Homo sapiens: one gene and its partners. The protein of the gene in region 1 purifies or fractionates together with the protein of each later gene. This does not show direct contact. Each region holds a gene or a part of one and is shown in the gene's direction. Other genes may lie near its edges.

Region 1 (7,036 bases):
TGTACTATCCAGAGGAAGGAGCTCCAGCTCTCTAGCTGACAGGGCACCTCAGCCTCCCTGATCCCTGGCAGGGCAGAGGCCAACAGGGCATAGCAATAGCCAAGAAAGAACAATTGCGTCTTGGGAACCTCCCAGGCCCCAGCCTCTCAGTTGTCCACTGCCCAGCTGCAGAGAAGGCAGGAGCTTGACATATCTGTGGCACTTGGCAGCCGGTGCAGATGGGGTGAGGCCTTGGGCTCTCCGCTCTACACTGCCCTCTGTCTGCACAGCAGACAGTCGAGATGCACTGAAACTGTCCAGATGCGACTCCTGATTTTCATTCCATCCTCCATCTCTGGGACTGTTACGATAGCTGTTTCCCTGAAGTTTCTCTTTCTACCCGCTCCATGTCTTCCTCTGCCCGAAATCCTTCTGTAGCTTCCTATTAAATAGCATTCCCATGGTTCATTTATTTAGACAACAAACATGTATTGAGTGCCTGCTGTGTACTAGGCACTTGGGGTACCACAAGGGACAAAATAGACCAAAATCTCTGCCTTCACATAGCTTACAGCTTAGTGGCAATAGAGATGGGCACAGATGCAGAGCTGTAAACTGTCACATGGTGATAGACACCTGCTATGGAGAAAACCAGAGCAGAGAAGGGAATTGAGGGGTGGGGGAGGCAGTTTGCAATGTGATTTGGAGAGGGAAGGTCTTAGCCACAAGGTGACATTTGAGCAAAAACCGGAAAGAGGTGAAGGGGGGACCATGAGGTTATCGGGGGGGTAGAGCAGCTACAAAGCCCCAGAAGTGGGTTTGGAGCAGAGAGGAGGGTAGGAGGCTTGTGGGAGATGAGGTCTGGCAGGTCAAGGGGCAGGAGATTGTTTAGGGTTTACATGGGATGATAAAGACTTTGGCTTTTGTCTAGGTGTGGTGGCTCATGCCTGTAATCCCAGCACTTTGGGAGGCCAACACAGGTGAATCACTTGAGGCCAGGAGTTCGAGACCAGCCTGGCCAATATGGCAAAGCCCCGTCTCTACTGAAAATACAAAAATTAGCTGAGCGGATGGTGCATGCCAATTATTGCAGCTACTTGGGAGGCTGAGGCAGGAGAATCACTTGAACCTAAGAAGCAGAGGTTGCAGTGAGTCAAAATCACGGCAGAGCACTTCAACCTGGGTGACAGAGCAAGACATGTCTTAAAAATAAATAAATATTAGATAGTTCAAATGTTAAGTAGATCAGACAAAAATCATGCTGGTCTCAGCCGGGCGCAGTGGCTCACGCCTGTAATCCCAGCACTTTGGGAAACCAAGGCGGGCAGATCACCTGAGGTCAGGAATTCAAGACTAACCTGGCCAACATGGCAAGTCCCTGTCTCTACTAAAAATAGAAAAATTAGCCGGGCCTGGTGGTGCATGCCTGTAATCCCAGCTACTTGGGAGGCTAAGGCAAGAATCGCTTGAACCCGGGAGGCAGAGGTTGCAGTGAGCCGATCGTACCACCGCACTCCAGCCTGGGTGACAGAGCAAGACTCCGTCTCAAGAAAAAAAAAAAAAAAAATTCATGCTAGTCTCACCCAAGAGCAGAGGTTTGGGAACTGCTGAGGCCTGGGGGTGCCTGAGTACCATCCTACCTATGACCACCCCTCTTCTCTTTGGGTATGTGAAGGGGCAGACCAGCTGAAATACTCAACCTGCCCCGTGGAGACCTACAGCCTTCCCTCTTCCTGGAATTTCTCCTCCCCTCTGTTGTCATGACTTGCCCAAAGCTCTCTCTTCTTCCAGGCGCACCTAACGTGCCTCCTCCCCAGCAGAAAGGCCTTTCCCGCCTCTCAACTCCCCTACCTGTACCTGTCACCTGAGGTCAGACAGCCTGGATTTGAAGTCCAGTTCATCATCCTGCTTGCTATGTGACTTTGGGTCAAAATGCACACAGTATCTCTGAGTTCCAGTCTGTTCATTATAAAACAGTGACAATCACCACACCTCATAGGGTCATTGTGTTGAATACAGGACAGAAGAGTGTGTGAAGAGGTCATTTTTAGACCAAAAACACAGAAGAGTCATCTCACTCAGGATTCGAGTTAAAGTCAGCTTGAAAATCAAATATCAGAGAGCTTTGGACTGTCTGTCTTCCTGTTCAACTTCTGGCTCCTCTTTAAAGCGTCCCCAGGGCCCTCAGTTCTCCAGTGTTTTAATCATGGCTGGGACCAGCCAACCTCTATCCTTCTGTCTGGCAGTGAATTCTCTGTGAGCAGAGAAGAAACCATTAAAGCCAGTCATTTGCCTTTCCCCGCAGGTGCAGCCCACACTTGTTGGCTTGGTCTACCCGCTTGCACCCGCTGCTTGAGTGTTTCTTTTTTTCTTTATTTCTTCTGGCTGATGGGGTATAGGGTTGGTCATCCATTGTTGACTTCAATGTAGATGTAGAAAGAAGGTCAGTTGGTTGGTTGTGGGCTCCCCCTCCCAGTGCAGGGCCTGTTGCAGAATAGGCACAAGGAAATGTTGGTTGAACGACTGATGGTCCCAGTCTCTCGCCCTCCTTTGCAGATCGAGCTGAAGGACTGCGCGGCTGGCTCTCCTCTAGTATGGCCAATGAAGAGGATGACCCAGTTGTACAGGAGGTAACTGCTGCTCTCTGTCCCCTGCCGCCGGGGCTACAGGCAGTGGAATTGGGTCCTTTCCATGTGTCCTCAGGCCAGTCTGGGACCTGTTGATGTTCTGGGACCCCTAACCCTTGCTGTTCCCTCTGCCTGGTCCCCTCTGCTGTCCCCCAGACCCCTGCGTGGCTGACCTCTCCCTTCCTTCAGGTCTCTGATCTGGCATCACCTCATCAGGGAGGCCTTCCCTGACTGCCCTTCCACACCCAGCTCCCCTCCTGCACCCTCCCGTGCCTCTCTCTGCCCTTACCTTGGCGGTAACTCATACTTGGCCTAGCCCCCGTCATCCCCTAGATATCAGTTGATTGCTTTCTTTCCCGTCCACTGCTGTGCCGCAAAGCCGAGTATAGTGCCTGGCACCCAGGTACCCGGCGACTATTTGGTGAATGAATGAATGAATAAATGGGCTCAGCAGTCCCTCCTTCCCAGGCTTACGCAGATGTAGTCATTCAGCAGCTGTTCACTGGACCACTGTGTGCTGGGGGCTGTGACACATCAGTGAGCAGGGCAGGGTCCCCTTCCCTGGGAAGCTAATGGGCTGTGGGCAAGACTGATGAGGCAGGAGTCTCCGGGTACAGGCAGTGGGAGGCAGATTTCCCTTTTTTTTTTTTTTTTTTGGAGACAGAGTCTTGCTCTGTTGCCCAGGCTGGAGTTCAGTGGTGCCATCTCGGCTCACTGCAACCTTCACCTCCCAGGTTCAAGCGATTCTCCTGCCTCAGCCTCCTGAGTAGCTGGGATCACAGGTGCCCATCACCACGCCCGACTAATTTTTTTTTTTTTTTTTTTTTTGAGGCGGAGTCTCACTCTGTCTCCCAGGCTGGAGTGCAGTAGTGTTATCTTGGCTCACCGCAGTCTCTGCCTCTGGGTTCAAACGATTCTTGTGCCTCAGCCTCCTGAGTAGCTGGGATTACGGGCGCCCGCCACTACACCTGGCTAATTTTTGTATTTTTAGTAGAGATGGGATTTCACCATGATAGCCAGGCTGGTCTCGATCTCCTGACCTCAAGTGATCACCCACCTTGGGCCTCCCAAAGTGCAGAGATTACAGGCATGAGCCACCATGGCCGGCACAGGTTTCCCTTCTTAGAGAAAGCTGTTGATAGTCAAACTCACCTTTCAGAATCCTTTTAACCCAGGACTTAGACCTTTGGAAGGCAAAAGGCAAAAAGTAACTGCATCTGCCTTCAGCCTCCTTATATGCGGAGCCTGACCTCCAGTGGGAAGGGCAGGGGCAAGGAGAAGGTCCTCGGAGATGAATAGAGGTGGTTTTTCCTTGCTTGGGGGATGTTGCTAAGTTATTAGATGTGAGTTATTTAGATGCATTTAAGCTGCATCTACACTGCAGTAGCAGGAGTTACAACAGGGGGGTTGGTGATGGGATAGAAGAGTCCAAGGGACTCCGAGGACAGAGGCAGTGCCCTCTGCAGCCAGGGGGCCTGGAATGCTTCCTGCCCAAGTTGTGCCTCAGCCAAGTCCTTGGAGGAGCGAGCAGTCAAGGCTCAGGGGAGGCATGTGTGAAGGGCTCTGTAGGTATAGGGAAAAGCATGTGCAAAGGCCCAGGGGTAGGAGAGCATGTGGTTTATAGGAGGAGTTAGGAAGCAGGAAGGTAAACTGCTGCGTGGCGGGGTGGGGGTGGTTAGTGTTGGGAAGAAAGGAAGTGGAGCCATCAGTCACAAAGGGCCTTGCAGACCCCTTAAGAAGGGGTGACAGGCTGGTCCAGGAGGGGCAGGTGGAGGGCCCAGCCAGGAGGCACAGGCCTAGGTGAGCCCTCGCCTGCCTGCCTCTCAGAAGAGCATTTGCCCAGGCTGTAGGACGTTTCCCGATCAGTGCAGCCCCAGGGAAGATGTGTGCTTACTGGGGGATTGTGAACTTGGGTGGGGGTACCAGGTGAACTCTTGCCCTGGTTCCCCTGGGAGCTTTCAGGAGGGATTCCTGAATATACCCAGTGTGCAGCCTTGGATCCGCTTGCTTTTAGCATGAGCTGAGCTATTTCCTCCTTCCCCAAACTGCTTCCCTGAGCCACTGCCCTTAACTGAAGCTGGAAGCGCTGGCATAGCCCGGGGAGGTCAGCACTGTGTCCAGTCTCCCGGTTAAGTCGTCTTCCCTTCTTCCCAGATCGATGTGTACTTGGCCAAGAGTCTGGCGGAAAAGCTGTATCTATTTCAGGTAATTATGGGACTTGAAGGTAAAGAGGGGAGAAGCAGGTGTGGGTGGGTGGTGTGGACTCAGGAACACGGGCAGGAAACGATGGGAAACCTCAGCTAGGGTTCTCGGTGTGGAGAGTGTCATGGGGTCTCTTTGCTTTCGTGGGTGGGTTAATATTGGTCTCATTTCAAAGATGGGAAAACTGAAGGAACACAGGAGAGGCAGAAGTGTGCAGCAGTTAAAGCTGGGGCTCTGGGGTCAGACCGGATTGAGATCCAACTCCATCACACCATAGCTGCGAGACCGTGGGCAAGTTTCTTAATCCTTCTGTGCCTCACTTTCCTCACTTGCAAAGTGGTGATGGTGATAATGCCTGCCTCATAGGTCCCCAGGAGGACAGGCTGAGTCCACAGTGAAGTGTTTAGGATGCCGCCTGGCAGAGAGTTGGTGCCAGTGATGATGGCCGCTGTTGTCATGGAGGCTCCAAGGGGCAGCTCCATGGCAGCGTCTGTGAGCCCTCAGTCCTGCCAGCTGCGAGGGCCCCGGGTTGCTACCTCTGCCCCCTCCCCTTGCTGCTGGGCCAGCAGCTTGTCATTGTGGCCAACATGTATTGAGCATTGACCGTATGCAGACTGTTGAAAGCATTTACCTCAGTTACCTCTTTAACCCCACAATAACCCTATGGTGGTGATTATTACATTTTATAACCGATATATTGAGATAGAATTTACACACCACACAGTTTCCCCATTTCAGTGTGTAATGCAATGGATTTTAGTCTACTCATGGGGCTGTGCAACCAGCGCCACAGTCTGTTTTGGGACAGTTTTGTCCCCCTTTAAAGGAACCCCTTGCCTATTAGCGATCAGTCTGTGCCCCCCATTCCCACCTCCAACCCCAGGCAACCATTCCCCTTATTTTCTGTTTATGGTTTTGCCTATTCCGGACTTTTCACATAGCTGGAATCATGCAGTATGTGGCCTGCTGTGATTGGCTGCTCTCACTTTGCATGATGTTTTCAGGGCTCATCCACATGGTAGCTATAGCCTGCATCAATATTTGAGCTTTTCTTTTTTTTGTTTGTTTGTTTTGAGACACAGTCTTGCTCTGTTGCCCAGGCTGGAGTGCAGTGGCTTGATTGCGGCTCACCACAACCTCTGCCTCCCAGGCTCAAGTGATTCTGCCTCAGCATCCTGAGTAGTTGGGACTACAGGCACGCGCCACAAGCCCGGCTAATTTTTGTATTTTTAGTAGAGATGGGGTTTCACTATGTTGGCCAGCCTGGTCTCGAACTCCTGACCTTGTGATCTGCCTGCCTCGGCCTCCCATAGTGCTGGGATTACAGGTGTGAGCCACCGCTCCCAGCCAATATTTGATCTTTTACTGATGAATAATGTTCCATTGTATGGGAGACCACAGTTTGTTTATCCATTCATCAGCTGATGGGTATTTGGGTTATTTCTACTTTTTGGCTATTATAAATAATGCCACTGTGGACATTCACATAGAAGTTTTTATGATGAACGTGAATTCTCATTTCTTCTAGGTATATGCCTGGTAGCAGAATTGCTGGGTCTGCGTTTAGCTTTTTGAGGCACTGCTGGGCTGCTCTGCCCCATGTTGCCTTCCCACAGTTAGAGTCAGTGTTCATATCCCATGATGCACATGAGAACGTGAGGCACAGGGAGGCCTTCACGGGCACGGAGGCCTGGGGCATGCCACAGCAGCAATGTTGTAAGCCTGTGCTGGGAGGGCCTGGCCTCCACTCCCTGGGGTTCACCCTTATGGGCCGTGGGAATGGGGCCTGTCCTGTGTGCCTGCTCACCCTGTTTCCTTGACTGGCTGCAAAGTGATGGTGGAGGTGCCAGTGACCCCCGTGTGTCCAGAGTTCCAAACCCTGAGCCACCATCGGCTCTGTTTGCCTCCTCCGTGCTCACAGCGGCCTTGGGAGGTGAGGATGCTTAGCCTCAGGGAGGCGAGGTGCCTGCCTGAGTCCACAGTTAGCAAGGGGAAGGATGAGGACTGGAAGCCAGGCCTGTGATTTCAGAACCTGCGCCCTTCAGCCTTCCCACCCCCAGTCAGGTGATCTCAGAACTGCCCCCAGCCCCAGCCCAGGAAGCAGGGAGGAGTCACGGCTTTGCTGTGTGAGTGAGCTTTTAGGAAATGACCGTCTCCTTGCGCTAGAATGTAGCTGATCTGAAAGGGCCTATTTTCCGCACTGCCATACCTCCACCAGGCTCATTCTA
Region 2 (7,883 bases), on another chromosome or scaffold:
GTGCAAAATCATGATAGGCTGTGTTTCAGGGCATACATGGAAAGCAAGGGATTGCTTCTGCAGGAGGGCAAAGACATCGGAGACTGCCCATAAGTAAGGGTTCCCTACTGCTTCTGAACAAATGCAAGAGAGTTTGGGACCCTAGCCCTGTGTGTTTATTGATATGCTGTGCCTGTAGGTACACAAGTAATCCCATATGCATGTGAAATGACCAGGGCATGAATACATGTGTGTATATACCCAGTAAATAGAGTACTTATTCTTTCTTGCTAATAAGAGTACTGTGCTTATGGACACATGTTTAACCATGTGTGGGTGCACTGTGCACCCATGAGCACATGCAAGAGATCCCTTTGTTCGTGGTGTGTGTGTGAGCTGGTTCTCCCACCTATCCCATTAAGGTCCTAATCCCCACCCTCCTTGGCTCCTCTCACTCCTCTCAGCGCCCTGGCTCCCCAGGCCCACCTAGACTCTGGAAGCCCCCCAGCAGGCGGATCTGCTCAGTCTGCATGGAGTGGCGTCTCACCAATTTGCGCTTGGTCCTGGGAGAGCCTGGCGCCCCGGCATAAGGAGGGGCAGGCAACGAAGGCGCCCGACCTCCGGGTTGTGGGCGAATGTCAGGGATGGGAGGGTGGGGACTGACGTTGAGAGGGGGTAGGAAACCCGGCCGCGTTTGCGAGATGTGGTCCAGGAGCAACGTCCCCGAGCCCCTCCGCTCCAGCAGCCCCGGACTCCGCCTCCTTCCGCTTAGCGGAGATACTGCCCCTGGCAGACTCTCCTGGGACTGGCGCGGAGAGGGAGCCGAGCCGGCTGGAGGGAGGGTCAACGGGGAGGCGCTGTATCGGCGGCGCTCCAGGGACAGGCGGCTGGACTCAGGCGAGTCAGGGCAAAGGTGTCCAGGGGTGTCCAGCTCCACTGGCTCCATGCGGCTCAGTTTCTGCCTCAGCCCTGAAGGGGGACCAGACTCCTGAGCTTCTGGTGCTGTGTTTCGGCGAGAGAGAGGACCCCCGCTAGTCACTTTCTCCGCCCATGGGGGCGGGTCCTCAGGGCCTTCGGTGCTGTGACGTCGGGAAAGACGGGGTCGACCGGTCAGGGTCAGGCCATTGAATTCGGCAGTCAAGCGCTCGATCCCCGGTCTCCCTTCAGTGGGTGGGACTGGTTGAGGAGGGGCCACTAGGCCCCAGGGCTCGGAGTTGAGCCTTTTGAGTGGTTTTGGGGGATGGCGTGGTGGTTTGGGGAGCGGCTCGGAAGGGGATGGGTCATCGGGGGGCTTAGGAAGAGGGAATTCAAATACGTCCCGCTTCTCCTCTTCTTCCTGGGCGCGAGGGGATAACATCCCACGCCCTCCTCCTCCAGCGGTCTGCAGTTGGATTTCCGAAGGCGACGTGCAGAACCCCGGGCTAGGAGAGGCGGGAGCAGGGTCCTCCACCCCTGGGGATGGTGGAGAATTGAGATACTGCCGGGTCTTCTTGGTGCCTGAGGGCGAGGTATCGGTGGTGATGATGATGACCTCCGTACCCTTGGCCTTGCAGGCGTCCAGCAGTGTGGCAAGGGTCTCGCGGTCCCCGCGGTCCAGGGCGTGGACAAGAGCCGAGGCGCCCGCGTGATCTCGGACTGAGGGGTCTGCGCCGTGGGCAAGGAGCAGCGAGGCCACCGCGGCGCCCCCACCCCCGGCGCAAGCGTGCATGAGCGCCGTGCGCCCTAATCGGTCTGCGATATTGGGGTCCGCGCCTTGCTCCAGGAGGTAGCGTACCATGCGTGCCTTGTTCTGGGGGTCGTCGTAGCGGGCCCGACAGGCTGCCATTAGCGCAGTCTCCCCCTGCGCATCACCCTCATTCACGTAGGCGCCTCCCTCCAGAAGCAAACGGGCCAAGCGTAGCTTACCCTGACCCACCGCCCGAAGAAGAGCGTGGCCCTCGGTGTGCAACATAGCTGCGGCTGGGGCGAGGGCACAGATGGAGCCGGGACTGAGACCTGCCGAGGATGACTAGGGGTATGGGGAGGGGGAGTGGCTGGCAGAGGCCTGAGGTCTCAGTGACGAAGCCGATCCCTGCAAGAGAGACATCTCATTGATAGATTCGGCAGGAAAACTGAGGCACAGATGCAGGGACCCAGCGTGGGGTGGAGGAGACCTTCACGGCATACAGTCCTTCCTCTAACTCATGCCTTTGAGCCGGCCCTTCCCCCGCAGCGCATGCCTGAGGAGGTGGGAAGGGTGCACCCGCACTGAAGGACTAGCGCGCGTGCAAATGCGTTCGTGCACGCGCAGGGATGTCCGCACCCCCACCCTCACCCCATGGCTTATCAGACCTTTCCTCTGTCCCCCTTGTCTTATCCACACTTGGGATCCCCCTTTCTAGGATGCTGAACGCCACCCACCCACATACATGCACCCTACAGTCACACATGTATTCTCATTCCTAACCTGTTTTAGCTTGCCACAACCCCAAAAATTGAGTGGGGGGAGGGAAGCAGCCTGCATTTGAGACCTAAAACGGGTGGAGGGAGAATTGGGGGGTTCTATTGCCCCTGCGATGTTCCCCATCACTCCTTGCTCTTTCCCCTCCCAGGCTGTGTGCCCAGATAGATACCTGAATGTCCGCAGAATCTCCGCCTGGCCAGGATTGGGGCCGTGGCCACGGGGCAGCCGAGGTGGCGGAGCCAGTTTCCTGGGGGCCCGCATGGCGTGGGGGGGGGGGCACCCGGATTCCCTTGGTGTCAGTATCTGCGCCCCGGCGCCGGATCCTGGTCCCTCCTCCCGGAGCGCCCCGGGCACAGCGCCGGCTCGGGAGGAGAGAAGCTTGGCGGGGGGGGGGGGGGGGGGGGGGGCGGAGCTCTGCTGTGCTATTTATAGCCTAGTCACTGCGGGTGGGGGCGTCAGGCACCAAACTGCTCCCCCACTCATGCACACATAAACCCTCAAAAACCTAGAGGCTCCAATCCTGACTTCCTTTTCTCAGCCGACCTCCCCTCAGCCCCAACAAACCTAAGTGTTCCTTAGGGGACTCCTCCGCGACCCAGACAGGGACCATCATCCAGATTCTTCGCTGAGATTCAGCAGATCCCCATTCTCCGCACTTGGTGTGTTTGTGCGCTCCTGTGCGCCAGACCTGACCTGCCATACACGGCACATGGCACACTGTGTAAGAAAGGTGTAGAAAGGCTTTTTGGATCCACAGCCGGTGTCCATACTGTGCAAAGAGAGGCAAGAGATGTGGCTTTCTTCCTGTAGTTTAATTGTGAAGGAGATCACGGTCCAGCCTGGAGTCAGACACAGATACACCCCCGCCCCATCTCTCAAAAACGGAACACCCATCGCAGAGAAACTTGGACCTCAGCTCCCTTATGTAGACCTCTTAGATAAGTATGAGGAAGGTGGATATGGGAGCACTTTTAGATAAGGCAAGGGACATTCCAGGTGCCTCCACCCCGTATTATTGTGGGCAGGGAGATAGGACAGGGGCAGGAAGAAGAGCGAACCTTGTAATACACTCTCTCACATTGCATCTCTTTAATCTCAGTCTTGCTTAGACGTCTTATTTTTTCCATCTTGCTTGACGATCTCTGTCTGAAACATTCCTTATATCTTCTCTCTTCCTATCTGTCTATTGGTCTCTCACACTGTCTCTGCCTCTCCTTGCCACCTGCCCTGTCTCCATGGTTACCATAGCTTCCATCCACATATTTTAGGAATGAGTTTGTGTCCAGCTGGAAGGCACCAAGGGAAGTGGGAGAAAAAGAAAAATCCTAAGGATTTAAAAAGTTCACTCAGGGTCCTGAGCTAATTCAGAGGCTGGAGGCCCCCCAGATGCAAGATACTGAAAATAATGTTCCCGGGGATGGGAGAGAGAGAGAAATATTTGCAGGAAGCTACCCATTTTTACTAGTTATTTCTTGGACACGTGTCAACTATGTGCCATGTGCTTTACATACACTATTTTCAATCCTCACAACTTTATAAGATAGGAACTATCATCTTCTTGTTACAGATGAGGAAACAGACTTAATAAGGTTAAGCAAGCTCTCCAAAGCTTCACAGCTATGTTTCTGTCCTATGGCAAAGACTGGGAGCTTGCCACTACACCTACAGCCTCCCAGTCTACAGGCCATTTTCTCTGACATCTGGGATGTTCTTCTTGACTAACTCCTAGATTTCATCTCCATTCTGAACCTTTCTCCCTTGTTTCTGCTTTCTGTGAAAATAGGACTCCTCCTTCCACTCTGCTGGCTTTCCCAAGGAGCTCGCAGGAAGTGGAAAGTAGTGGAAAATGCAGAAAAAGCTGGGCTCCTGCCCTGTCTCCCCAACCCTGGTACGCTGATCCCAAATCCTTCCTTTCTTGAACCCTCTGCCCACCTTCTCACAGACACGGCAGCAACCCACAGAAAAACATTTTTAGAAAAGAAGTATCCATTGGTGGTGCTGGAGAGAGGCAGTGTATGATTGAAAGGAAGGCTGGAGTAATGGAGAGACCAAGCTATGAAGCTAGAGTCACAAAAAGACTGATCCCTAAAGAGCAGCTTTTACAGAGGTTCATTTCTCCGTAGGCCCTCTCCTCCTTTGGCCTCTCTGTAGGGGCTCCCTCAACACGGTCCCTCGATGAGATATGAGTGTCACGTTCCCTCGGTGAACTCTCGCCGGCTAGTGGCTCCTTCATCTGGAGTGAGACCGGAAATAAGTGACCCCAGCTGATTCTGCAACGCCCATCTCTCTCTGCGACCCGCTTCGCAAGCTTCGGTTCCGGGCGTACTCGCTCCCTCCCTCCTTCTCTTCCTAGGCTTCAAGAGGGCGGACTTCCCTCCTCGGCTTCTCCTGCATTGGCCGAGAAAACTCACCAATAGGGAGCTCCGGGAGGCGGGCTTAGAACGCCACCGACTTGAGGAAGCCCAGTACATTTCAAGTTGGTCGCGGCTTGGGCTCCGCTTTGGGGAGGGGCAGCAGGTAAGGCTTGACCTGGTTCGGTCCGACACTTGCCAAACTTGTTCACCCCGGCCAGGCTGCGAAATAGACAACGCTTTCCGTCAGGTTGTTGGATCAGCCCCCTTCTGGCTCCCTACCGTTTCTCCCCTGGGCTTCCATTTCTGTATTGATTGTATACTAGAGAATGGCAGTTTTCTATCGCGCATGGGGAGAGACATTAAAGCAGAAAACGAGACAGCCTCTTGTATCTGTCTTTGCTATAGCATCAACTTCCCCCTAATCTATTAATATTATCCCAAGAGCCTGACAAACTCCTGTTATCTATGAAGACTAGCTGAAATGCTACCTGTAGTTTTCCTGGGCCGCCTTTCTTGCAAAATGAATTGTTCCCCCGTCTACGATAGCGTTTTGTATATACCTTTATTAGGACACTTAGTGCACTGTCTCTCTTTAACGTTTCTATGCCTTTTAGAATAGAAGGTTTTGTAGGACAGGTGCTAGTAGTTAATATATAGTGCCCAATAAACGTTAGTTAAATAGAATTGATTTCTGGTAACTAGCACTCTTTTTGGGGAGGCAGAATTTAAACTCCTAACATAACTAGGGAACAATAAAAGACAATACAGTATGTAATTAAGAGCCATTAAATTAGTGGTTCATAATATTAGTGTTTCATAATTGTTTCTACAATCTAGAGAAGGAAGAAAGCAAGGAGAACTGGAATGGTGAGGGGAGGCTTTATGGATCACAATTTCTCAAGTTTGGAAAGGCCCATAGAAATGATGTATTTATTCATTCAATAAATATTTATTGAGCACCTACTATATGCCAGACACAATGCTAAATCATGCTGATCATAGGGAATCCTCTACTAGAGCCATGCATCCTTCTTACAAACCCTATGTAGTAAATTTTTACCCAGCTTCTATGTAAACATCTTTAGTAAGGGAACTCTCTTATCTCTCTTGTAGATCATTCAATTTTTTGATACCTGTTCTTTAGTCAATATCCTACAAATATTCTAAATAAGAAATATATAGCTAAAGGAAATGCATTCCACACTTCCACTGTAAAAGAGGGAAATATGGCTGGGCACGGTGGCTCATGCCTGTAATCCCAGCACTTTGGGAGGCCGAGGCGGGCAGATCGCCTGAGGTCGGGAGTTGGAGACCAGCCTGACCAACGTGGAGAAACTCTGTCTCTACTAAAAATACAAAAATTAGCTGGGCGTGTTGGCGCATGCCTGTAATCCCAGCTACTGGGGAGGCTGAGGCAGGAGAATCATTAGAACCCAGGAGGCGGAGGTTGCAGTGAGCTCAGATCGCACCATTGCACTCCAGCCTGGGCAACAAGAGCAAAACTCCCTCTCAAAAAAAAAAAAAAAAAAAAAAAAAGGAAATCTGTCCTTTTACAGTGGAATTGGTAGCATTCTTAAAAGCAAGCCATTTCTGGCTGGGCGTGGTGGCTCATGCCTGTAATTCCAGCACTTTGGGAGGCTGAGGTAGGCAGATCACTTTAGCCCAGGAGTTCAAGACCAGTCTAGGCAACATGACAAAACCCTGTCTCTACAAAAACTACAAAAAAAATAGCCAAGCATGGTGTCTCAGGCCTGTAGTTCCAGCTGCTCAGGAGGCTGAGGTGGAGGGTTGCTTGAGCTGGAGAAGTCGAGGCTGCAGTGAGCCAAAATTGCCACTGCACTGCACTTCAGCCTAAGCGACAGAGCAAGAACCTGTCTCAAAAAAAAAAAAAAAAAAAAGAGGCCGGGCGTGATGGCTCATGCCTGTAATCCCAGCACTTTGTGAGGCCAAGGCGGGTGGATCACGAAGTCAGGAGTACAAGACCAGCCTGACCAACATGGAGAAACCCCATCTCTACTAAAACTACAAAAAAAATTAGCCAGGCATGGTGGCGCATGCCTGTAATCCCAGTTACTCGGGGGGCTGAGGCAGGAGAATCACTTGAACCCAGGAGGTGGAGGTTGCGGTGAGCTGAGATTGCGCCATTGCACTCCAGCCTGGACGACAAGAGTGAAACTGTCTCAAAAAAAAAATAATAAAATAAAAAGAACATAAATAAATAAAATGGGTATTTTTTAACCATTCATTTATTGTTAGATTGTTTCAGTTATTTCAGAATTTTTGCTACCATAAATAGCTCTTTGATGAATATCCTTTTACTTATATCTGTGACTGTATATCTGTTGATGTCTTTGGAATATATTTTTAAAGTGGGATTGCTGGATTAGGGATATAAACATTTCAAAGGCTGTTGATTTAACTGGACAAATTGCTCCCCTTGAAATATTATGTTTATAGTCTTTCCAGTGAGGTATGAGAGTGTCCATTTGAAAAAAAACTCATGACAGCCTGCTTATTATTTAAATCTTTGTCACTTTCATAGGTGAAGAGTGGTTTTATTGGCCATTCTCTCTCCTTTTTTTTTTTTTTGAGACAGTCTTGCTCTGTTGCCCAAGCTGGAGTGCAGTGGTGAGATCTCAGCTCACTGCAACCTCCACCTCCTGTGTTCAAGTGAGTCTCATGCCTCAGCCTCCTGAGTAGCTGGAATTAAAGGTGTGTACCACTGTGCCTGGCTAATTTTTTGTATTTTTAGTAGAGACAGGGTTTCTCTATGTTGCCCAGGCTGGTCATGAACTCCTGGCCTCAAGTGATCTGTCCACCTCGGCCTCCCAAAACCCTGGATTACAGGAGTGAGCCACCATGTCCAGACATGGCCATTCTCTTTGCCAGTTGCCTGTTCATGTCCTTTGCCCATTTTTTCTATTGAGATGATTTTTTAAAATTTGGATTTCCAAGATTTTAAGGGTGTTAATTTCTTGCTTTATTTATTACATGTATAGCAAATTCTACACATCAGCGTGCCCCAGGCCTCAGTGCCTGGATTTCTTATTTTCTCTGTCCACATCCACTCCTTTAGGGGTCTCACCTAGTCTCATGGCTTGAAGTAT
Region 3 (8,006 bases), on another chromosome or scaffold:
CACCACACCCAGTTAGTTTTGTATTTTTAGTAGAGACAGGGTTTCTCCATGTTGGTCAGGCTGGTCTCAAACTCCCGACCTCAGGTGATCCGCCTGCCTAGGCCTCCCAAAGTGCTGGGATTACAGGCGTGAGCCACCGCACCCAGCACAGAGTATTTTCATTGTCCCCAAAGGAAGCCCAGACCCCATCAGCCTTCACTCTCCATCTCCTCCCCTAGGACCTGGCACACACACATCCCCTCCTGTCTCTGTGGATTGGCCTGTCCTGGACATTTCATGGAAATGGGATCACACACTGCGTGTTCTTTTGTGCCTGGCTTCTCTCACTGAGCATGAGGTCCTCAGGCTACATCCACATTGTGGCCTGTGTCAGAGCCTCATCATTCCTTTTCATGGCTCAGAAATATTCCAGTGTGTGGAGGGATCACATTGTGTTTATTTATTCATCTGTGGATGGACATCTGGGGTTTTTTTTTTTGAGACAGAGTCTCACTCTGTTACCCAGGCTGGAGTGCAGTGGCGCAATCTCAGGTCACTGCAACCTCCGCCTCCCAGGTTCAAGCAATTCTCCTTTCTCAGCCTCCTGAATAGCTGAGATTACAGGCATGCGCCACCATGCCCGGCTATGGGCTGTTTTCTCTTTTTGAGTTTGTAAAGCCGTACAAGTGTTTGTGTGGGCGTATGTTTTCATTTCTCTTGGGTGTATGCCTAGGAGTGGAATTGCTGAGTCATATGGTGACTCTTTGTGTAACAGTTTGAGGATCCACCAGACTGTTTGTTGTTTTTTTTTTTTTGAGATGGAGTTTCACTCTTTTTGCCCAAGCTGGAGTGCAGTGGCACGATCTCGGCTCACTGCAACCTCCACCTCCCAGGTTCAAGCGATTCTCCTCCCTCGGCCTCCCAAGTAGCTGGGATTACAGGCCTGCACCACCATGCTCGGCTAATTTTGGTATTTTCAGTAGAGACGGGGTTTCACTATGTTGGCCAGGCTGGTCTCGAACCCCTGACCTCAGTTGATCCGCCTGCCTCAGCCTCCCAGAGCGCTTGGATTACAGGCGTGAGCCACTGCGCCTGGCCGACCAGACTGCTTTCTATAGCGGCTGCACCATCTTACATTTTCACCTGCCCTGTGTGTGGATCATGGCCTGACTTCCGGGCCTCTGGCTTTGCTGTTATCATCCAGGCCGCCCCTGGCTTGGGCTCAGCCTCTCAGTCCACCCCTGCCCCCAGATTTGCAGGTCACTGCTTGGTCTTTACTCCAGATGCCCTTTCTTGTGTCATAAAATCCACTCCTGAGGCCTGTCCGTCTCCTGACCCTCCCCGCCCCATGTATCTGCCCCACATCTCCAATTCCTCTCCTCCCTCAAATCCGTCCTGCCAGGCACTGGCCCCCTTCCCTGAGTCACAAGCAATGTCTGCTAGGCGAATCCCTGCTCAGTCCTCAGGCTGACTTGGCGGTGGCATCACATAGCCACTCCCTTCCCTCTGCCCCTAGACACCTTCCTCACCAGGTTTCCAGGAGACCTGGCAACCTCCTGCCCTTTATCCTATTTAGGGAACACTTATGCAGTGCTGGTGTCAGGCGCCACTCTGTGTACATTGCAATTATTAGCCAATTACCCTACGAAGTGGGTGCTGTTCTTGTCCCTGTTTTACAAGGGAGGGGAGAGGGGACGCACAGAGAGGTTGAGTAACCTGCCTGAGATCACACAGCCAGGTCTGCAGCTCAGGGGCTGCTCCAGTGTCTGTGCTGAGCCTCCCTCCCCTCCTGCTGCTGCCTCCCCTCCTTCTCCGGGCTTCTGAACACCAGCAGGGCTGGACTTACTCTCCTGGACTCTGCTCTGCTCCCAGGACCTGGTCCAGGCTCCCGGCTCTAATCTTCACCACGTGGCCACCCTGCCTGCACGTCCATCCCCCAGACCTTGCCCTGAACTCCAGAGCTCACCTCGACCTACACGCCTCCACCCTCCCACCCCTCTTTTCACTGCTCACAGGGACAGCTTTGTTCCCTTTCTCCCTCTTTTTCTCGCCCTGTGGCACCCTCCCCGCTCTGTGCTTGCCCCTACCGTAGTTGGAGCCACCCCAACCTGTGGCAAGTTTGCCTTCCCACTCCCTCCCTGGTCTCTTGCTTCTGCCCTGGCTCCCAACAGTCATTTCCCAACACAGCAGCTCCAGACATTTTACCCTGACCAGCAAGGCTTCATGGGACCTGCCCCACCTTGCCCTCTGACCCCCTCCTGCCCCTTCCCTGCCAGGAACACTCCAGGTGAGGCACAGCCCCAGAGCCTCTATCCTGGCTGTGCTGTCTGCCTGATACAGCTATCCCCAGGCAACCCCAGGTTTCCTCCCTCTCCTCTTCTGGTTTTTGTTTGTTTTCTGTTTGTTTGGAGACAGTGTCTTGCTCTGTCGCCCAGGCTAGAGTGCAGTGGCGCAATCACAGCTCACTGCAGCCTCAACCGCTGGGCTCAGGCGATCCTAGATCTTCCCACCTCAGCCTCCCGAGTAACTGGGACTACAGGTGCGCCCACCACGCCCAGCTAATTTTTAAATTTTTTTGTAGAAATGGGGTCTTCCTGGCCGGGTGCGGTGGCTCACGCCTGTAATCTCAGCACTTCGGAAGGCCGAGGCAAGCAGATGATCTGAGGTCAGAAGTTCAAGACCAGCCTGGCTAACATGGTGAAACCCCATCTCTACCAAAAATACAAAAAAATTAGCCAGGTGTGGTGGCTCACGCCTGTAATCCCAGCTACTCGGGAGGCCAAGGCAGGAGAATCCTTTAAACCCAGGAGGCGGAGGCTGCAGTGAGCTGAGATTATGCCACTGTACTCCAGCCTGGGCAACAGAGCGAGACTCGGTCTCAAAAAACAACAACAACAACAAAAAAGAAATGGGGTCTTCCTATGTTGCCTAGGCTTGTCTCAAACTCCTGGCCTCAAGGTGAGAAAGAAAAGTTAGGTAGTTAGATAAGAAAGCCTGCACAGACCGGGCGGGGTGGCTCACACCTGTAATCCCAGCACTTTGGGAGGCCGAGGCGGGCGGATCATGAGGGCAGGAGATGGAGACCATCCTGGCTAACACGGTGAAACCCCGTCTCTACTAAAAATACAAAAAATTAGCCGGGCGTGGTGGCAGGTGCCTGTAGTCCCAGCTACTCGGGAGGCTGAGGCAGAAGAATGGCGTGAACCCGGGAGGTGGAGCTTGCAGTGAGCCGAGATCCTGCCACTGCACTCCAGCCTGGGGGACAGAGCGAGATTCCGTGTCAGGAAAAAAAAAAAAAGTAGCCCCTGACAGCCCCCCAAAAAGAATCTCAAATATCAGTGTAAAAAAGTCCGTGACTTACAACTAAAAATTACAAAACTACAACAAAGGGATCCTCCCCTCTCAGCTTCCCAAAGTGCTGGGATTACAGGTGTGAGCTATCGCGCCCAATGGGATTTTTTTTTTTTTTTCTCGATGGAGTCTTGCTCTGTCACCCAGGCTGGAGTGCAGTGGTGCGATCTCGGCTCACTGCAACCTCCGCCTCCCGGGTTCAAGTGATTCTCCTGCCTCAGCCTCCCGAGTAACTGGGAGTACAGGCACCCACCACCAAACCTGGCTAATTTTTGTATTTTTAGTAGAGACAGGGTTTCACCATGTTGGCCAAGCTGGTCTGGAACTCCTGATCTCATGCTCTGCCTGCCTCGGCCACCCAAAGTGCTGGGATTACAGTGATGAGCCACCACTGCTAATGGGATTTTTGCTTGAATCTATCCTCACTGTATTCCCTGACCTCCCCATGTGATACTGCAGTTCTCCCATTCTCCCCATGTCACTTAGCCTCCCTGCTCTTTCTTCTTCCGTAGCTTTGTCACTTTCTAACGTTGTTATTTATTTTATTTTATTTCATTTCATTTTATTTTTGAGACAGAGTCTTGCTCTGTTGTCCAGGCTGGAGTGCAGTGGCACGATCTTGGCTCACTGAAACCTCCACCTTACAGGTTCACGAGATTCTCCTGCCTTAGCCTCCTAAGTAGCTGAGACTACAGGCACCTGCCACCTGGCCCAGCTAATTTTTTGTATTTTTAGTAGAGACGGGGTTTCACCGTGTTAGCCAGGATGGTCTTGAACTCCTGATCTCATGCTCTGCCCGCCTCAGCCTCCCAAAGTGCTGGGATTATAGGCATGAGCCACCGCGCCCGGCCACGTTATTTATTATATTTTACTAAATCCTGTCTTTATCTGAATGCAAGGGATACTTGGCCTGTTTTATTCACCATCACTGTAGGTTGCTGAGTAAATGTTGAATTAACGAATGCATCACTGAATAAGTTACTGATAGCCTGCACACAGGAAGTGTTGGGCTGGGGTTCTCCGTGAACCTGGGGAAGTGAGGAGGTTTGCAAAGACAGGAAGAGTCTGGGGTGGGGAGATACCCAGGCTAGGCTGGGGAGATACCCAGGCTAGGCTGGTGGCGCTCAGGGGAGAGGACAGAGGTGAGGGGACTTAATAAGCACCTAGAGAGATGCCTAAGACTCTCAGTTAACCGTCTAAAGTAGGGACACTTTATTGCCATTGCACAGGTAGGGAAACTGAGGCCCAAGGGAATTAACCCTGACCTGGCCAGGAGCCAATGGAGGAAACCCTGTACAGTTTGATGCACAAATATTTATAGAGTTCCCACTAGGCTCCCAGACCATCCCTAGGAGCCGAGCTGCCCCTTGACCCCATCCAGGCCTCAGTTTCCCCGCTCACACTTCGCCCCCGCCTCGTGGGATTCTAAACTGTTGCTCCAAGGTGGGAGTTGAACGGAAACTACAACTCCCGAGAGGCTGTGCGGCCAAAGACACACGAGAACTACGGAGGCGAGAGACTCGCTCAGCCAACTGCCGCTCTCGTAAGGCTCGGGCTGCCCTTGGCGCTGCCGATCCGAGACGTTGCTGCATTCAGGCATTCGCCGACGACAGACCAGCGCGGGGCGGGGTTAGGCGGAGGGGGCCTGATTCGGATTCGGCGCAGGCGCAGTCCGCGCGGGTTCTCGCGCGGAGAAGGGGTGCGAGCGGCGGCGGCGGCGGAGGCTGCCATGGACGACGAGGAGGAGACGTACCGGCTCTGGAAAATCCGCAAGACCATCATGCAGGTGAGCCGCGCCTGGTGTTGGGGGCGGGGGCGCGGGCGGCGGGTGTAGGGGCCCGAGGTGGGGTCGAGCACGGCGTCTCCTCGTACTCTCGTCGGAGCAGCAGCGATGAAGGGCCGGGCCGATACGGGAGGCCCAGAGGTCGCCGGGGATACCAGGCGCTGGACCCGACCTGAGCCGGCAGCGGGGAAGGGAGGGGGTTTCGAGACGTCTGGGTGCGGTGCTTAGGGGTGGGTGGGCGGCTTGGGCTGGTGCGGCGCGCGTGGCGGCGAGAGGAGGAGGAAGCCGCGAATGGGGACGGGGGGCGCCCCCAGACTCTGCCCTTCTCTGTGATTCAGCGTCGCTATTTGTCCTTGCGTCCTGAACCCCATGGAGTCTTCAGCATCCGAGGCTGGCAGAGTTGGTGGTTGGGAAGCAGCGGGCGAGCTGGGGCTTTCGATGGGGACGTGGAGCTCGGAACCCGTGCCTTGGGGTCTGGGGCAGATGGAGGCCACTGGGTCGAGTCCGGTTTGGAAGCCGGGCACAGGCCTGAGGACCTGCGGTTCAGGGTATTGCCTCAGCCATTGGGGCCGTTTGAGAGCTTTTGCTTTGTCTTGCTTCCCACCCTTTGCCCTTGTCCTCAGCGAAGCCCCCCGCAGCCTGATTCTTCTTTCTCCGATCCTCAAACATTGTCAGCCTGAAGTCACATCTGTTTCGGTCCCTGTCATTTTTTTTTTTTAAGAGATAGGGTTTCATTCTGTCGCCCAGGCTGCAGTGCAGTGGTGCAATCATAGCTCACTGCATCCTTGAACTGGCCTCCAGCAACCCTCCTGCCTCAGCCTCCCTAAGTACTGGGATCACGGGCGTGAGCCTCCGCGCCCCGCCTTTGTCCCTGCCTTTAGGGTAGCTCTGCAAAGTGGTTTGGAGGGCTTTGCTCCCTGCCAGGTTTCTGTGAGGCTGGGTGGACAGACGGTCTTGGTCAAGGCTGGACATCTCTGGGAGCCTCTCAGGATCATACTGGTCCCATCCTGTGGTGTGAGGCTGTGGGGGCCGGGGTGGCTGTCATGGAGCACACAGTGAGTGTTCATCCCGTTTGCTGTTCACCTCTGTCCTCTGCAGCAGCCGCAGGTCTGACTTCCGGGTCACGAGCTTTGGCCGCCTTCCTCTCTCTGCCCTGGGGTCAGCTGGTTCTTTCTCTCTGCAGCTGTGCCACGACCGTGGCTATCTGGTGACCCAGGACGAGCTTGACCAGACCCTGGAGGAGTTCAAAGCCCAATCTGGGGACAAGCCGAGTGAGGGGCGGCCGCGGCGCACGGACCTCACCGTGCTGGTGGCCCACAACGATGACCCCACCGACCAGATGTTTGTGTTCTTTCCAGGTGAGCAGCGGGTCCCGGGGGAGTTCCGGTGAAGCCACCAGAGCACCTGCCGAGGAGCCGGTCGCTAGCACCCACCCCCACTCGCCTGGTGCCCAGCATTTGTCTCTCTGCCCAGTCTGGGAGGAAAACTCCCCTCCCCTTCCTTGCTGTGGGTGATGCCGTTGATCTCTGACCCCTCTCATGCTCAGCTTCTTTCTAGTTTCCCTCTCAGTCCCCTTCTCTCTTCCTGCCAACGAGGAGAGTCACAAGGGCCTCCCCACTCACCCCCAGCCCCCCATGTCCTTTGCCCTAGTGTCCCTTGGCTCCCCCATCCTGGCCGTTGGGTGCACTTCCAGCTTCTTGGCCTGGCCCAGGAGGCCCCGTCTGGGTCAGCGCAGCCTCCTTGTGAGCTGCGGCCCCTGCCCGCCCCAGCCCATTCCTCCGCACCCCATGCCCCCTCTCCCCTGTCAGCGTCCGGTACTCGTCCCTCGAGCTTGTGCTCGGGCCTCTTTTCCCAGGACCCCTGGGACCCTCGGTTTCAGCACCTGCTTTGCGGAAGTCTCCGCACCTGTCTGCCTCCCTAGTATGGCTCTAAAGCCCTCAGCGGTTGGGGGATTGCAAGCGCCTTAGGGGCGCAGCCCCACGCCCAGAATTAATCAGTGGGGTGACGGAGCACGTCTGCCAACCGGACCTGGTGACGCTGCTGGGTTTTTTTGTTTTTTTTTTGTTTTTGTTTTTTGAAAAAGAGTCTCAATCTGTCGCCCAGGCTGGAGTGCAGTGGTGCCATCTCGGCTTGCTGCAGCCTCCACCTCCTGAGTTCAAGCGATTCTCCTGCCTCAGCTTGAGTAGCTGAGATTACAGGCACCCACCACCACGCCTGGCTAGTTTTTCTTTGCATTTTAGTAGAGATGAGGTTTCACCATGTTGGCTAGACTGCTTTCAAACTCCTAATCTCAGGTGATCCGCCCGCCTCGGCCTCCCAAAGTGCTGGGATTACAGGCGTGAGCCACCGCGCCCAGTCTTTTTTTTTTTTTTTTTTTTTGAGACTGAGTCTCCCTCTGTCACCCAGGCTGGAGTGTGCAGTGGCGCAATCTCAGCTCACTGCAACCTCCACCTCCCAGGTTCAAACAATCCTTCCACCTCAGCCTCCCAAAAAGCTAGGTTTACAGGCATACACCATCTCACCTGGCTACTTTTTCTTTTTGTATTGTTTATTAATTAATTAATTAATTTTTTTGAGACAGAGTCTTGCTCTGTTGCCCAGGCTGGAGTGCAGTGGCGCAATCTCTGCCCACTGCAAGCTCTGCCTCCCGGGTTCACGCCATTCTCCTGCCTCAGCCTCCCGAGTAGCTGGGACTGCGGGCGTGGGCTAATTTTTTGTATTTTTAGTAGAAACGGGATTTCACCTTGTTAGCCAGGGTGGTCTCGATCTCCTGACATCGTGATCTGCCCACCTTGACCTCCCAAAGTGCTGGGATTACAGGTGCGAGCCACCGCGCCCATCCTGTATTGTTAATAGAGACCGGGTTTCACCATGTTGGCCAGGCCGGTTTAGA
Region 4 (7,810 bases), on another chromosome or scaffold:
ATGGTGAAATCCCATCTCTACTAAAAATACAAAAATTAGCCAGGTGTGGTGGTACAGGTCTGTAATTCCAGTTACTTCGGAGGCTGAAGCACGAGAATCATTTGAACCTGGGAGGTGGAGGTTGCAGTGAGCCGAGATCGCGCCACTGTACTCCAGCCTGGGTGACAGAGTGAGATGCTGTCTCAAAAAAAAAAAAAAAAGAAAGAAAGAAAAAAGAAAAGAAAAGTATTTCTCAGGCCAGACGCAGTGGCTCACTCCTGTAATCCCAGCACTTTGGGAAGCCAAGGCAGGCGGATTGCTTGAGCCCAGGAGTTCAAGGCTACAGTGAACTAGGTGACAGAGCAAGACCCTATCTGAAAAAAAAAAAAGATATCTCTGTGGTGCTGTTACCAAATGCTGACTTGGCATTTACTTCTCAGCTTCTGTTGCTGCCCTCCCCTTTGGGGTGTCTTCATTAAACGTGTCCTGAGAGGGAATACGATTGAGTTTGCTCGCCACGTGTCAGTTTAGATGACCCACAAACCCCACATTAGATAGGGTTCTCATGATAAGCCACTTCATCCCTTAAATCCAGCCCACATGGCTGTCCTGGGCAGGTACCCGGCCCTATTGGTTTTGATAGGATAATAAGATCACATCCACAAAGAAAGGTCTGGGGGCATGGCAGGCAGCTGAAAGTTTTTGGACTATCCAGTCTTGCCTAAAATGCAGAATGTTCTGACTTCAAGGGCTCTCCCTCTGCTGTTGCCTTTTGAGACTGAAGAGTCCTTATTCTTTCTCTGACATTGTTTCTGGTCTTCTCTAGTTCTATTATGAATTAATTGAGACATAGAAATCAGAACCATATGTATCTTTTTTCCCAGTCTGAATGCATCAAGGTTTCAAGAAAGGAAGATAATCTTTTTCTTTTGTTTCTAGCACCTTCATGTTGAAGCCTCTCAGAGCATGGTCTAATTTTTTTTACAGGGCATAACAGTCCGTGATGGTACAGCTCCAGTGGATCTTTCTAGTGTCATCTACAGACACGTCCCTTGAAAAGCCCTATGTGAGAACCACACTCAATTGTCAGAATGTGGTATAATGTACTCTAATGCCCTCATGCCATTGCTCACGCTGTGTTTCCCTACTTGAAACGTTTTCCGCTACCCCATGCTTTTGGTATGGCGTTATGATAGAGTGGTTAAAAGCATGGGTTCTGGGGTCAAATAATTATGGATTTAAATTCCAGCTCTGCTTGGGCAAGTGTCTTAACCCCTGTGAGCCTTAGTCTCTTTACCTTTCAAGTGGGGATAATCATACTTATCCCCGGGGTTCAGCACTCAATTAGAGAATGCACATCAAGTGGTCATTGCAATGCCTAAGAGTAAACACTCGGTAAATGTTAATATTTCAAGGCCCAGCTTGGACACCTCTGCCTTTCCTTTTTCCTTGCTCTCCCTTAAACAAGATCCCCTATTCCCCCATGGCACTGGTCAATTTTTCATCTGGCTACCATAAGCCATTGTACATTAAGTGATAAGATAGTATTCCAACATGTTAACCATTTTTCCTTCTGTGATTTTTTTTTTTTTTTTTTTTTGAGACGGAGTCTTGCTCTTGTCGCCCAGGCTGGAGTGCAATGGCGTGATCTCGGCTCACTGCAACCTCTGCCTCCCAGGTTCAAGCAATTCTCCTGCTTCAGCCTCCCGAGTATTTGGGATTACAGATGTGCGCCACCACCTCGGGCTAATTTTTGTACTTTTAGTAGAGACAGGGTTTCACCATGTTGGCCAGGCTGGTCTCAAACTCCTGACCTCATGATCCACTGCTTCGGGCTCCCAAAGTGCTGGGATTACAGGCGGCGTGAGCCACCGCGCCCAGCCTTGTGATCTCTTTTCCCTAATTTCCCACCCCTCTATTCAAACCACTGGTCTTTTTGTACTAATACCTCAGGAAAAGGACATGGCAGCAGAAAACAAAGAAATGCTGAGACTGTTCCTGGCTTCTTGGTTTCAAAACTCCAGTCCCTTAGGGTATCAGAAAGAAGTTATAGATTTGATCTGGGGGAAGGACTATGAGGGACTGTGGCAGCTATGGTCTAAGGGCCAACACCGTTCAGCATTAGCCGATTGTTGCCGTATAGGACTTTGGGACCATGGCTACCAGAGCCTCCTGCTTTTGAAGAGAAACTAAAAACAATCAGGATTCTTAAAAAGTGAGTATAATATCAAACATCACCCATTCGTTGCATTTTTTCTTTCAACTCACTCATTCAACACAAATATATTCAGGAACAACTGATGGGTTAGAAGTTGGAAACACAAAGACAAACAAGATAGTTCCCGTACCAAGAGCTCAGTCTGGATAATGAGACACATAAAAAGAGGATATGGCATTGAGTGATAAGTCTTAGGTTAGTGATTTCCAAAGCATAATCACTGGAAAGCAACAGCAGGGAACTTACTAGAAACGCAAATTTGCAGGCCGGGAGTGGTGGCTCACGCCTGTAATCCCAGCACTTTGGAAGGCCGAGGCAGGCGGATCACCTGAGGTATGGAGTTCGCGACCAGCCTGGCCAACATGGTGAAACCCCGTCTCTACTAAAAATAAAAATTTAGACGGGTGTGGTGGCGCATGCCTGTAGTCCCAGCTACTAAGGCGGCTGAGGCAGGAGAATCACTTGAACCCAGGAGGCTGAGGTTGCAGTGAGCCAAGACCGAGCCACTGCACTCCAGCCTGGGTGACAGAGTGAGACTCTGTCTCAAAAAAAAAAAAAAAATGCAAATTTGCAGCCAGCGCGGTGGCTCACGCCTGAAATCCCAGCACTTTGGGAAGCCGAGGCAGGCGGATCACCTGAGGTCAGGAGTTTGAGCCCAAACTGGCCAATATGGCGAAACCCCGTCTCTACTAAAAATACAAAAATTACCTGAGTATGGTGGCACGCGCCTGTAATCCCAGCTACTCGGGAGGCTGAGGCAGGAGAATCGCTTGAACCTGGGAGGGTACAGTGAGCTAAGATTGCACTACTGCACTCCAGCCTGGACGACAGAGTAAGACTCCATCCCCGCCCCCCACCAAAAAAGCAAAATTTCAGCCCCAATTTACCAATCAGAAAGCTGAGATTAGTTTAACAAGCTCTCCAGGTGATTCTGATACACCCTAAAGTCGGAGAATCACCTTGATAATGGAAAGCAAAGAAGACTTTGGCACAGACAACCAACACACTTGAGCCAACCTTGAGATCCTCTGCCATCTATAAATCACTTTCACAGTCCCTTCTAGGCTAGATGCTAAATTGGTTGCAATCTGGTAATGCACAATGATGAGACACAAGTTGTATCTTGTCTCTGTAATAAGTAAATTGTAAGAACTTCAAAGGCAGGGTTGATTCTACTTTTGGTGTTTTTTCCATTCTTCTCGTATTTCAGATATCAGTGCAATACTTAGAAAATACGGCCGGGCGCGGTGGCTCACGCCTGTAATCCCAGCTACTCGGGAGGCTGAGGCAGGAGAATGGCGTGAACCCGGGAAGCGGAGCTTGCAGTGAGCCGAGATTGCGCCACTGCAGTCCGCAGTCCCACCTGGGCGACAGAGCGAGACTCCGTCTCAAAAAAAAAAAAAAAAAAAAAAAAAAAGAAAATACAAGTACTGAAATTTAAGTAGCTCTTTAGTAAATAAGAATAATTAACCTGGTGCAAGGGTTCTACCTTTATGAGGGAGAAATTGGAAAGCATATATGTACTTACAAATTTTCATAACTTTTCTTATCGTTGTAAAATATACATAAAACTTAGCATTTTAACCCTTTAAAATGATGTACAGGTCAGCAGCATTAAATACATTCACACTGTTGTGCAACCATCACCATTCTCCATTTACAGAACTTTTGCATCTTCCCAAACCGAAACTCCGTACCCATTAATTAATTGGTGCATTTTGCCTTGTTTTTTCTAATAGGATTTTTCTTTCTGTTGATTTGTATGAGCTCATTTTAAATTAGAGAGACCAGCCCTTTGTCTTCTGCCAATTTATTTTTTATTAATTCTATTTGTTGGTGATTTTTTAAAATCTGTTCAGAAAATTAAAAATTTTCCGTGGAATCATAAAATCGTGTTTAGATTATAAAATCCTTTATGATTTGACTGTTGCCGTCTTGAAAGTCTTCAACATCTCAATGTTATGAATATCTGCACTTACATTTTCTTCTAAGTTTTTGTTAACATTTCAATATTTAATCCACAAAAGATTCACTTACATGTATTTTTTCCCCAAATGGGTAATCAGCTCTTCAAACATTATTTACTGGACAGGCCATCCTTCCCCTACTAACGTAAATGTCATCTTTTCATATTAAATTTCTCCATGCGCTGGGTATTTACTCCTACATCTTCCATCTAGTGCTTTTGAGAATTTTCAACACTCTTCCATTACACGCATGTACCATCATTTATTTAATCAATCTTCTATTGGTAGGCATTTGGGACGTTTCCTGCTCTTCCATACTAAACAATGCATAGAATTTTGGACTACATTAAATAATTCTCTGCCTCAGTGGTTCAAGTTGCGTAAATTATGCGTTTACACTTTTCTTCGGATTACTTTTAAAATGACAACCACTATGTTTTGCTGGTCTCAATTACCAGAGAATTGGCAAGAAACCTGACAGCTGGGGCTTAGGATTCCCTGCGCCAGACCTCCGAGCTACACCAGAGGGCGTACTTTCCTTACTCGGCCTCGGCCACATCCGGGTTCCACCGCAGATTCGGGCAGGGAGCGGGCGGAACCTTTCTACCGCGTCTCTAGCTAACACGCACGGCGGGGACAGTTTAGGCCTCCGCGCACCGTTCGCCGGGAGTCTTGCAGTTTGCTTGGTGCAGGGAAGGCGGGCGCGGAGGTTCTATCTGTTTCTTCCTCCTTCGTGAGCAGCATGGACGTGCTAGCGGAGGAGTTTGGGAACCTGACTCCGGAGCAGCTGGCGGCGCCGATCCCGACTGTAGAGGTCAGTGCCAGGCACGCAGGGAGCGTCAGGGACAAGGATGCGCCCTGAGGGGGCGTTGCCCGGAGTGCTCGGGCCGCCAAGGGGGCGGGCTGGCGGTTTGTGCGCATGCGCCGGGCTTCTGCGCATGCCCAGAGCGTCGCGCTTGCGAGTCTTTTTTCCAGAGCCGGCCTCCGCGTGCGCGAGTGAAGGCTGATCCCAGAGGAGCTGTCAGCCGCTGCGGGGGCCGAGAAGCCCCGCTGCTGGCTCTAGGGTTGGAGCTCTTCCAGCATAGGTGTGCGTGGGGAGGACTGACCCTCGCACTTACTGTGGGGGACGTATTGCATGTTTGCAGTCTTACAGAGGACACGGGGCCAGGGAGCTCAGGCCATTTGCATGAGGCACCACAGCCGGCTGTGGGGGTAAAACCAGATCGTCTGAATTCCAAGCTAGTCATCTTTCCTTTTAACTTGAAGTTCCAGTTTGGGTTGCAGGGGAATTTTAAACGCCCTCAATATTTACTAAAGAATTTGCCTGTGTGTTTTCTGGGGGAGAGACTCCACAGCTTTCATCAGCTTCTCGGAAGTTAAGGACAGCTGCCCCACAGCGAGCTGCCCAGTGAAGTGCGGCTGTCGACATATTTTGTTATCTGATAAGGCACATTTTGTAATCTCTCTGAGCCTCAAAATCTACACTGACGTGGAATAGGGAAGTGGAGACGTGGCCGGAGAAGATAGCAAAGGAGAGATTTCAGGGAAAGAGAACAGGATACTTGAAACCTCCTCGGCAAGACCATTGGATGTTTTTGAGGAAGGAAAGTAAATCCAGTAGTATTAGAGTGAAGAAAAATAGAGGAGAAGAGATAAAAGACAGGGTTAAGTAAGGGTCTTGATTATGAAAAGTTTCAATAAACATCTGACAGAGCTTGGACTTTGTCTTGGAGCAGAGCTTTTGAAGGGTTTAAGCAGGAAAGTGACATGATCAGTAAGTCTATCGGATTATAAGAACCTCCTTGGCTAGGCGTGGTGGCCTGTAATACCAGTAGTTTGGGAGGCCAAGGCGGGCGGATCACTTGGGCTCAAGAGTTTGAGAACAGCTTGGGCGACATGGCAAAACCCTGTTTCTACAAATAATACAAAAATTAGCTGGGTGTGGTGGCGTGCACTTGTCCCAGCAACTCAGGAGGCTGAGGTGGAAGGATCACTTGAGCCTGGAAGGTCGAGGCTGCAGTGAGCCGTAATTGTGCTGCTGCACTCCAGCCTGGGTGACTGAGACCTTGTCTCAAGGAAAACAAAACAAAACCTCTTTATAATAGTTTGACAAGTTAAGGAAGTTGAATTAGCAGTTCCAACAGATTCAGTCTATAAGTGCATGCAATAGGCTGCTGATCATCAGGCAAAACTATTTTTTTTTTTTTTTTTTGAGACGGAGTCTAGCTCTGTCGCCCAGGCTGGAGTGCAGTGGTGTAATCTCGGCTGACTGCAACCTCTGCCTCCCGGGTTCAAGCAATTCTCCTGCCTCAGCCTCCCAAGTAGCTGGGATTACAGGCGCCCACCATCACCGCCAGCTAATTTTTGTATTTTTAGTAGAGACGGGGTTTCACTGTGTTGGCCATGCTGGTCTCGAACTCCTGACCTCGTGATCCACCGCCTCGGCCTCCCAACGTGCTGGGATTACAAGCGTGAGCCACCGTGCCCGGCTGCAAAACTGTATTTTAACCGTGAAAAGTGAATATCAAAGAGCCAGCATTCACTGAGCACTTGCTAATGTGCCAGGTTCTGTTTAACCATAACATGCATTATGTTATTTAATCCTCTGAAATAAGTACTATTTTCACCCCCATTTTGCCAGAGAGGCCCAAAGATGTTAAGTAAATAGCCTTGCATTAGAAGCCTGGTAGTGGCTAATCTGGAATTTGGACTCTTGTCAGTCTGACTCGAGTCTTCATCCCTAACTGCTATCGGACCGCTTCTCCAGAGAGCTGAAGAAATAAGCCTGGGAGATTTCTATTTCTTATCTGAATTTACACAGCTATGAAGTGAACAGTGCTATAATTCCAGCCTTCTGATTGAAGAATAACAGTTCCTCTTCCTGCACTCTGTATCCAATCCACCATCACCTCTAAAAAGTCCTGAGTTCTTAATCTATGCATATCTGAAACTTCATTCCCACCGTTTTCCAGCCCAGAACGACTGTCCTCTCTTACTTCCTAACTGGCCTACCTGGCACCTGACTTGTCCCAATCCAGTCTGTTCCTTGCTCTGCAGCCAGAGCTGTCCGTTTAAACACACAAACATGGTTATGTTGCTCCCTTGGTTAAAGTTCTTCAATCTCTGCCTATTGCTCTTAGGGCAAAATCTAGTGTTTACCATGTTTGTAATAAATTTCCTCAGTCTGACCAGTGCTTACTTCTCTAGTCTCTTTTCCCATGGTTCCCCCCTCTCCCTCCCCTGAGATCTTTCTACTCTGCTCAGTTTCTTCTGGATCGCTCTCCCCTTCCTATTTGTAGATTAAATCCCACATATCTATAATATAACTTCCCTAGGAAGGCCTTTCCTGATTCTCCCAGAAGATGGTAGATCTCTGCTACTTGCTGCCATTTCCTTTTAAATTGAGATATTAAAATATTTACTTAAACTTTCCAACTTCAGTGTTTTCGCTGCAACTTTTTCTAGTTAGGAGCTCAGTTTTACTTGAACTGGCCATGCCTGGTGTGTATTTTTTTGTGCTTATGGTAGCACAGCAGCATGGTAGTATGGTAGAAACAACACAAGCTTTGGAGCCAATTAATCAGTTACTTGTTGAATAAATATTTGTCAGTGTTACTGAGTACTTACCTGGTGGTGTATTATTCAC

Evidence for each region.
Region 2: the proteins of POLR3E (region 1) and POLR3GL purify together in Homo sapiens (co-immunoprecipitation; 6 studies listed by BioGRID and IntAct, with this or other methods). This does not show direct contact.
Region 3: the proteins of POLR3E (region 1) and POLR2E purify together in Homo sapiens (affinity purification with mass spectrometry; 6 studies listed by BioGRID and IntAct, with this or other methods). This does not show direct contact.
Region 4: the proteins of POLR3E (region 1) and POLR3B purify together in Homo sapiens (affinity purification with mass spectrometry; 9 studies listed by BioGRID and IntAct, with this or other methods). This does not show direct contact.

Annotation. Positions count from the first base shown.
Region 1 is NC_000016.10:22,300,396-22,307,431, forward strand, and holds part of POLR3E (DNA-directed RNA polymerase III subunit RPC5), read left to right. Parts: intron 1-2,535; 5' UTR 2,536-2,573; coding exon 2,574-2,609; intron 2,610-4,760; coding exon 4,761-4,811; intron 4,812-7,036. UniProt on the Homo sapiens protein: DNA-dependent RNA polymerase catalyzes the transcription of DNA into RNA using the four ribonucleoside triphosphates as substrates.
Region 2 is NC_000001.11:145,959,830-145,967,712, forward strand, and holds the start of POLR3GL (DNA-directed RNA polymerase III subunit RPC7-like), read left to right. Parts: upstream 1-4,860; 5' UTR 4,861-4,939; intron 4,940-7,883. Other genes in the region: ANKRD34A (ankyrin repeat domain-containing protein 34A), read right to left, coding at 440-1,930. UniProt on the Homo sapiens protein: DNA-dependent RNA polymerase catalyzes the transcription of DNA into RNA using the four ribonucleoside triphosphates as substrates. Specific peripheric component of RNA polymerase III which synthesizes small RNAs, such as 5S rRNA and tRNAs.
Region 3 is NC_000019.10:1,092,369-1,100,374, reverse strand, and holds the start of POLR2E (DNA-directed RNA polymerases I, II, and III subunit RPABC1), read left to right. Parts: upstream 1-4,999; 5' UTR 5,000-5,059; coding exon 5,060-5,116; intron 5,117-6,296; coding exon 6,297-6,471; exon of another isoform or gene 6,472-6,619; intron 6,620-8,006. UniProt on the Homo sapiens protein: DNA-dependent RNA polymerase catalyzes the transcription of DNA into RNA using the four ribonucleoside triphosphates as substrates.
Region 4 is NC_000012.12:106,352,974-106,360,783, forward strand, and holds the start of POLR3B (DNA-directed RNA polymerase III subunit RPC2), read left to right. Parts: upstream 1-4,774; 5' UTR 4,775-4,906; coding exon 4,907-4,978; intron 4,979-5,136; exon of another isoform or gene 5,137-5,249; intron 5,250-7,810. UniProt on the Homo sapiens protein: Catalytic core component of RNA polymerase III (Pol III), a DNA-dependent RNA polymerase which synthesizes small non-coding RNAs using the four ribonucleoside triphosphates as substrates.